2 linked regions of the Homo sapiens genome follow. The protein of the gene in region 1 interacts with the protein of each later gene in a pairwise test. Each region holds a gene or a part of one and is shown on either strand. Other genes may lie near its edges.

Region 1 (3,920 bases):
TATACATCTCAGTGCGAAGGCTTCAAAAAGAACAGCTTCCTGGCCTGCCAGAAGCTCCTCAATGGTTTGCTAAGATGCCCACTTGCCAGCTGCCCCTCTGCTGTCTTCCACCAGGACCACGCAGGGCCAAGGGCAGGGAACCATGTCTGCGTCCCCACCCTTTCGCCCCAGGGTTGAGTCCTCCAACCCTCCAGGTCCTATCCGGCAGACAGCCGCCCCTGAATCACAGCCCCTTTTCGACCCTGTGCCTGAGCTTGGTCGGGAAGTGCCCCTCCTTTCCTGCTCCATCCTCTTCCATCCTCCTCCCTCATCACCCCACTTTGCTTCCCCCTTTCTCATCCCTTCTTTTCCTCTTCTCTCACTTCCCCTGTCCTCTCAGGGCAAACACCAGCTCTAGTTCCCAAAGTTCCCCCTTTATCATGCTTCTGGCATTGAGCCAAATATCATCCTTGAGGAGCTGGGGGTTGGAGGAAAAGATCTGGGAAGGGCGATGGTATATGGAAAGAATGGGGAATATAGGAGGTACTAGAGGGAGAATAGGTAAGGAGAAGGGTGGGAAGAAAGGGGAGTGGAGATTTTCGGGAGGACAACTTTCTGAGCGACCCTTGGGTTAGTTATTGGCAGCAGATAGGGGGTGATTAATGACAGGTAGCTCAAGCATATTTTTTGGAATAGTTTTGGATTTACAGCATAATTGAGATGATAGGACAAAGAGATCCCACATACCCCACACCCAGTTTCCCTTGTTATGACACGTTACCTTTAGCCATACATTTACCACACATTGGCATGGTACCTTTGTCACATTAATGACCCACTATTGATACCTGATTATTAACTCAAGTCCACACTTATTCAGATTCCCTTAGTTTCCACCCATATCTTTCTGTTCCAGGATCCCACATTACCTTTAGGTGTCAGGTCTCCTTAGGGTCTCAAATCACCATTTTTATTTTTATTTTTATTTTTTTGAGATGGAGTCTCCCTCTGTTGCCCAGGCTGGAGTGCAGTGGTTCGATCTCGGCTCACTGCAACCTCCACATCCCGAGTTCAAGTGATTCTCCCGCCTCAGCCTCCCAAGTAGCTGGAATTACAGGCATGCAACACCATGACCATCTAATTTTTTTGTGTGTATGTATTTTTAGTAGAGACGGAGTTTCACCATGTTGGCCAGGCTGGTCTTGAACTCCTGACCTCAGGTGATCCACCCGCCTTGGCCTCTCAAATGCTGGCATTACAAGTGTGAGCCACCGTGCCTGGCCACAAGCCTATTTTTAATGTGTATCCTTTCAGGTACTAGAGCAACCATGAAGAAATAAGCCAGGGTCAATTAGATACTGAGCTACTCAAAAGTGTCAAGAAGGATGGTTCTCTCCATCTCACCCCCACCCTCTGTTCCAGTTAGTACTCACATTCTACTAGAAAAAGATGCAAGAGAGAAATCTGTTAGTAACTGGAATTGAAACTTTTCTTTGCCTGACTGGCCAGTTTTGCACCAAGCCTGAGGAGGGAGACAATTTAAGATTCACTCGATCTGTGCAAAAAGTCTTATTTTCTGACATAAAGACTAATGAGTTTGGTTTATCCAGATCTGTGCCCCCCATGGCAACAGAGCTTTCAGTCCCTTGCCTTCATTAAAGAAAAATTCTATGCTCAACTTTAATTTTTTTTTTTTTGGCTCTTCAAGTTGGAACTATAAAGTGCCTAGAACACAAAGAAGATAGAATTATTTTTACACATACTCCAGGAACTCTTTAGCTAGTGAAAGCTGTGGGATATGGCAGATCCATGGAAATTTTGGAGTCCAGGCAAGAGGCTAAATGGAACATGTAACAGAAATTCTCGGGAAATCTATTTTCAAGGATTATTAGGGACTTTTCTTACAAGATTCTAGAGCTAGCATTTAAGGTACTGGAATCTAGTTCTTAATCATCTGTACATTATAGCAAATTGCCACAACAAAAAGTGCATTGTGCCAAGTTCTTGACATGAGACTCACCCACGGGTGACACGGAGGTGCCTGTGATGAAGAGGCAGGTGAGAAGCAGGAATGGAGGCATCCTTCTGGACCAACTGCCAGAAACACTGGAAAATCCTCTTAATACTGGTGTTCCTTTGTCCCCTTCTCTTTCAAGCACTTTTTTTTTTAAGGCCTCTAGGCTCTCACGAGAAAGACTTTATCAGCACTGGTAGGGGCTTTATCAGAGGAAGAGGATGAGGATGAGTGGGATAAGGTGTCCACAGCTCTGGCCTTGGCCCCAGAGAGAAGCACTGCTTTACACTGTCAACAGGGTTCCTTTATTAATAGTTTTCTTTAGGAAAAAAAAAAAAAAACACAACTCACAATCCCTCATCCTCCTATTGTTTTCTCTCAAGAATTCCCTGCAATGAAACCCCAGTATCTTATCCAGAAGGGAATTCTAAATGAGGGACATCCCTTCACGTCAAATTCTTGCTTTGTGACTTCTAGGAATTGATTTCACAATGTTGCAGCCATAGCACTGCACACTAAACGAGAATGGATGAAGCCAAATCACTGCAACTGTCTTGGTCAGATGGTTGAGGAGCTTATAATAGCACACAAAACAAAGTAGTAAGGACAGGTATGAGACAAGGACAGTATTCTCTTGAAATAAGCTCCTGAGTTTGTTTTATTACGGTCTTTGGCCTCAAAACTTCTGAAAGAAACAAGGTTTAAATTGTGTTTTTACTAATTCAAGCAGCAATACCTCATATTTTTATTGTCTTTACTCCCAAAATTAAAAAATGGTTTAATGTTATTTATTTCACTAATTCTCACATTAAGATGGGGTAGGAGCTTAAAATTAGAAACTACTCATTAAATTAACACTCTGGAAAATTAAATGTCAAAATTTCCTGAAGTTTCACTTTTAGACAAAGGAGAGAAAATGTGCTTCTTAGCACAATTTTTTTTTTCAGACGGAGTCTTACTCTGTCGCTCAGGCTGGAGTGCAGTGGTGTGATCTCGGCTCATTGCAAGCTTCGCCTCCCGGGTTCACGCCATTCTCCTGCCTCAGCCTCCCAAGTAACTGGGACTATAGGCGCCCACCACCACGCCCAGCTAATTTTTTTGTATTTTTAGTAGAGACAGGGTTTCACTGTGTTAGCCAGGATGGTCTCGATCTCCTGACCTCGTGATCCGCCTGCCTTGGCCTCCCAAAGTGCTGGGATTACAGGTGTGAGCCACCGAGCTCGGGCAATCACTGGTTTTTGACAATGACAAAAGTACACATGGTCTCCAGAAGCACAGGGTTTATGGTCAAGCAAGGGGTTTCCATTGATCTAAAATTGTAGTTAGCTACTTCATTACTAACATCAGTGGGACACAGGCAATTTGACCATTAACTTATTAAGTTGTGGTTTGATGGCAGCAATGGATGACTCTGCTGTCTCATTGCAGGATAGTGTTGCTAAGTATCAGTGCTTTAAACAGAAAAAACAATCCCCCACAACTTCCTGCGCCTAGGAAGCCATCTGAGGGCTTCATATGTGTTGCAGAGAAACAGAGGACGTGTGCATGAGATAAACCCAGACTTGTTGCCAGGATTGATTGCTGGAGTCAAGGACTTTCACCAGATAGCCTTTGGTTCTGTAAACAAGAATTCCCAGGATGGTAAGATGTTTTTTCCCCCTTATTTCTATTTTTTCCTTTTTAGTTGACCTGCTCTTTCATTTTTTACTTTTTATGATGAAAAATTTCAAATATATATACAAAAGTATAAAGAACAATAATGAACACTCAGCTATAATAATTACTAACATTCTATCAATTTCATTTACATACCAGTATGCATTTCTAACACATTGTATTTTTTTACATAATCATGATGCTTTTATTACAACTATGAAAATTAGTAATAATTCCTTAACTCATATCCAATCCATATTTAAATTGCTCC
Region 2 (3,920 bases), on another chromosome or scaffold:
AAATGTCCCAGCAACACAGTCAGTCCCAAGGAAGATGAAGTTGCCCCTTTCATGCCTCTAAATCTGCTCTTTTAGGCACAGGGTCCACTTCAGCAGCAGCCTCCAGAGTGCTGGCCACTGCCCCCTCCGCAGCAGCTGGAGCCCGCTGAGGGCTGGCTGCAGCAGTCAGAGCTCTGGGGTCTGTGGCGGTGGGACCTACGCCGTCTGTGGTGGCTCAGGCAACAGCCGCCTCCCCCAGAGCTGCAGCAGCCACCACCCCCAGAGCTGCAGCAGCCCCCAGAGCTGGAGCCACAGCAGCCTCCGGAGCTGACGCTGCAGCAGGAAGAGACAGGAGGGCACTTAGGGGGACACTTTGGGGGGCACTTCGGTGTGGGGCACTTGGGAGGGCACTTGGGAGTGCACTTGGGAGGGGGCTGGCACTGCTGCTGGCTCTGCTGGCAAGACATCTCGGTGGCGGGTGTTCAGGAGCTGAAGGAGGGTCAGACAGCAAGTTAGATGGAGGCAGAGGACACCCCTGCCTATTCTTGTCCTTTCTGCATTATTTCTAGATCCTTCATTTTGAAAGCCTTATATCAAACATAGGAAAATCACCTCTAATGTTTTTATCACTCTCAATGTTTACCAAGTGCTTTCATTCATGGATTCTCATTTCAAACCTTATTTGAGATGTTGTCATGCAATATATAATCTCCAAATATGTAAATAAAGTTTCTGCTCATTAAAAGCTCCTAAGTGTGGGAGAGAAGTCCAGGAAATAAATTGGCTCCGGGCCAGCATTCATTCTATCACATCACCAAGAATTCTGAAAATGTTCAATGTTGAGACCAGTTTAGAGATGAAAATCTCTTTAAGGAAAAATCAAAATAAATTTCTATTGGAAGAACTGATATATTTCAGTTTGCAGAAATAGAGAAAACTATAACCGCAAAGGATGTTGGAGTCAATTTGTTCCAACCAACTCAATATATAAATAAAGAAACTGAAGCCAAAAGAGGTAACTTCACTGGCCCAAAGTTATTCATTAACAGTCACATTTGTTCCGGGGTCCCCTGGTTCCCATCCTGGGCTCTGCCCTTTAGCACATCCTGCCTCCCCAGGCCTGTCCCCAGGCACTGTCACATGGCTTTTAAACTCCAGTGTGCACTCAGTTTTCCACTACAGATCTTCTTGTTGGCATCTAACAAGATCCACAGGTGTCTTTGATCCTTTCTTCCTCTAAGTAGCAGTGTTCTCAGCATATCTTTTCTAAAAGTGAGTATGTCTGTATTTCCAAAATTATATTCCCACTATGCAGCCCACTCTAGCAACATCCAGTGGCCAATGTGTTTATTCTCTAAAACCAGAGAAACACACTGAGCAACTGAAAACAATTTGGTTCCTCTAAATCTGTGTCATACAGCCCTTCAGATCTTACCAGTTCTTCTTAATCTCTCTCACTCCACCCCACCCCTCTACCTCCTCTTTCCAATTTTCTGCCCCCACCCCATTCCTTGCCAATCACAATTCCAGGCCCCTGAGGCCCTGCCTAGACTCTACTCCTGCCCTGGTCTGAGTATCCATCCCCTCCTTCCCTGGCCTGGGCATCCCTCTGTGGAAGCCCCTGCTCCTTTTTCCAGGGCACACTTACCAGGATCACAGGCAGCACAGGGTTCTTCAGCACCGCAGGAGGTGAGTGGATGGGATGCTCTGGCCCTGAGCCCTTTTATTCTGTCCTTGGGTGCTGCCTCCAGCGGTGAGACAGAGCCTGGGCATGAGAGGACCTGCCTCCCGACACCCACATAGGTCTTGTGACGAGTGGTGACTGGCAGTTCTGCATATACCGTCCTTCATTGGTGTTCAGGGGAGCTGCTGTCAGCTAGGAAAGAGCTTGGTGGAAATGGGGGCTTGTGGTGGGTGAAAATGGACATCATGGTTCCTGGAGTCCTCCGTGGCCTATTTCCTATGAAGATGGCTCTCTTCACAGTCTTGTAGTCACACTTATGAATTCTGCACAAACAACTCATTTTTCCTTCTATTCTAGATACTAATTTTCCATCTAGACCTTTGGGTCCATATAGCTTGGTTAAAAATCCACATGCCTGCATTATGGGGTTTGTCCATGTGCACATGGGCATGTGTGTGCATCATAGAAGTCGAGAAAAGAGGCCTTGGAGACCCTGGCAAAGTATTCAATATTTTTGGCCATTGGCTTTCTGATGTTTTAAATGAAGATAATAAGAGAAATATCTTTTCTGCAGGATTTACAAATTAATTAAGATAACAAAGGGGAAGTAGCTGAGATAGTATGTGGCATGTGGTTATAATTAGGAAATGGATGAATAGGTAGATAGATAGATAGATAGATAGATAGATAGATAGATAGAAAGAAAAATAGAGGCAAACCTGAGATTTTAATGGACATTGGGAATTTTTAAAGTCACAGGTGCCTTTTAAGTTAGGTGGCTCTTATTAAAACTAAAGGCCATTTTTTTTTCCTCCTACGTACCTCAGTGAATAGGGCTTTCTGAAGGTAGATCCAGAGTGGGTATAAGAAAAGAGGACTAAAGGATGTATATTGCCCCAAATTATAGCATAAAAGAATTTGCAGTTTCCTGAGGAAAAGCTGAAGGGATGAGGTAAAATAAAGATGAGAAGGGTGAAGAGAAGAGAACAGCCAATGAGGTGGCTTTGAACTGTGACTTGGAGTGGTGTAGTTGGTATAGACAAGAATAGACATAGTCAATATTTAATTTGAAATTATTGGCTTTGTTGCAATACACATTTCCTGGGTTTAATTTCCCAGTTTCCCATGCTCAAAACTAACCAAATGCAAAATCTAACAATAAAAAACCAATATTTGAAAAATAAATATGGTCAAAATTACATATAACATCAAAGAATTATTGGATGGTTTTAGCAGATTATAAGTTGCAGAAGAACAGATCGGTGAACTTGAAGAAATTGTTCAAACTGAACTGAAGAAAGGGAAAAATATTAAAAAAATGAACAGATGATCAGTGACCAGTGGAATAATATCAAACATTCTAGCACCCATGTATTTAGAGTTTCAGGAAGAGAACTACAAACCACTGCCCAAGGAAATAAAAGAGGATACAAACAAATGGAAGAACATTCCATGCTCATGGGTAGGAAGAATCAATATCGTGAAAATGGCCATACTGCCCAAGGTAATTTATAGATTCAACGCCATCCCCATCAAGCTACCAATGACTTTCTTCACAGAATTGGAGAAAACTACTTTAAAGTTCATATGGAACCAAAAAAGAGCCCTCATTGCCAAGTCAATCCTAAGCCAAAAGAACAAAGCTGGAGGCATCACGCTACCTGACTTCAAACTATACTACAAGGCTACAGCAACCAAAACAGCATGGTACTGGTACCAAAACAGAGATATAGAACAATGGAACAGAACAGAACCCTCAGAAATAATGCTGCATATCTACAACTATCTGATCTTTGACAAACCTGACAAAAACAAGAAATGGGGAAAGGATTCTCTATTTAATAAATGGTGCTGGGAAAACTGGCTAGCCATATGTAGAAAGCTGAAACTGGATCCCTTCCTTACACCTTATACAGAAATTAATTCAAGATGGATTAAAGACTTACGTGTTAGACCTACAACCATAAAAACCCTAGAAGAAAACCTAAGCAATACCATTCAGGACATAGGCATGGGCAAGGACTTCATGTCTAAAACACCAAAAGCAATGGCAACAAAAGCCAAAATTGACAAATGGGATCTAATTAAACTAAAGAGCTTCTGCACAGCAAAAGAAACTACCATCAGAGTGAACAGGAAACCTACAGAATGGTAGAAAATGTTTCCAATCTACTCATCTGACAAAGGGCTAATATCCAGAAACTACAATGAACTCAAACAAATTTACAAGGAAAAAACAAACAACCCCATCAAAAAG

The links.
Region 2: the proteins of OIT3 (region 1) and LCE1F interact in binary tests that used the Homo sapiens proteins (3 or more experiments, as listed by UniProt).

The regions. Positions count from the first base shown.
Region 1 is NC_000010.11:72,891,939-72,895,858, reverse strand, and holds the start of OIT3 (oncoprotein-induced transcript 3 protein precursor), read right to left. Parts: upstream 2,121-3,920; 5' UTR 2,061-2,120; coding exon 2,000-2,060; intron 1-1,999.
Region 2 is NC_000001.11:152,772,898-152,776,817, reverse strand, and holds the start of LCE1F (late cornified envelope protein 1F), read right to left. Parts: upstream 1,679-3,920; 5' UTR 1,628-1,678; intron 469-1,627; 5' UTR 447-468; coding exon 90-446; 3' UTR 1-89. UniProt on the Homo sapiens protein: Precursors of the cornified envelope of the stratum corneum.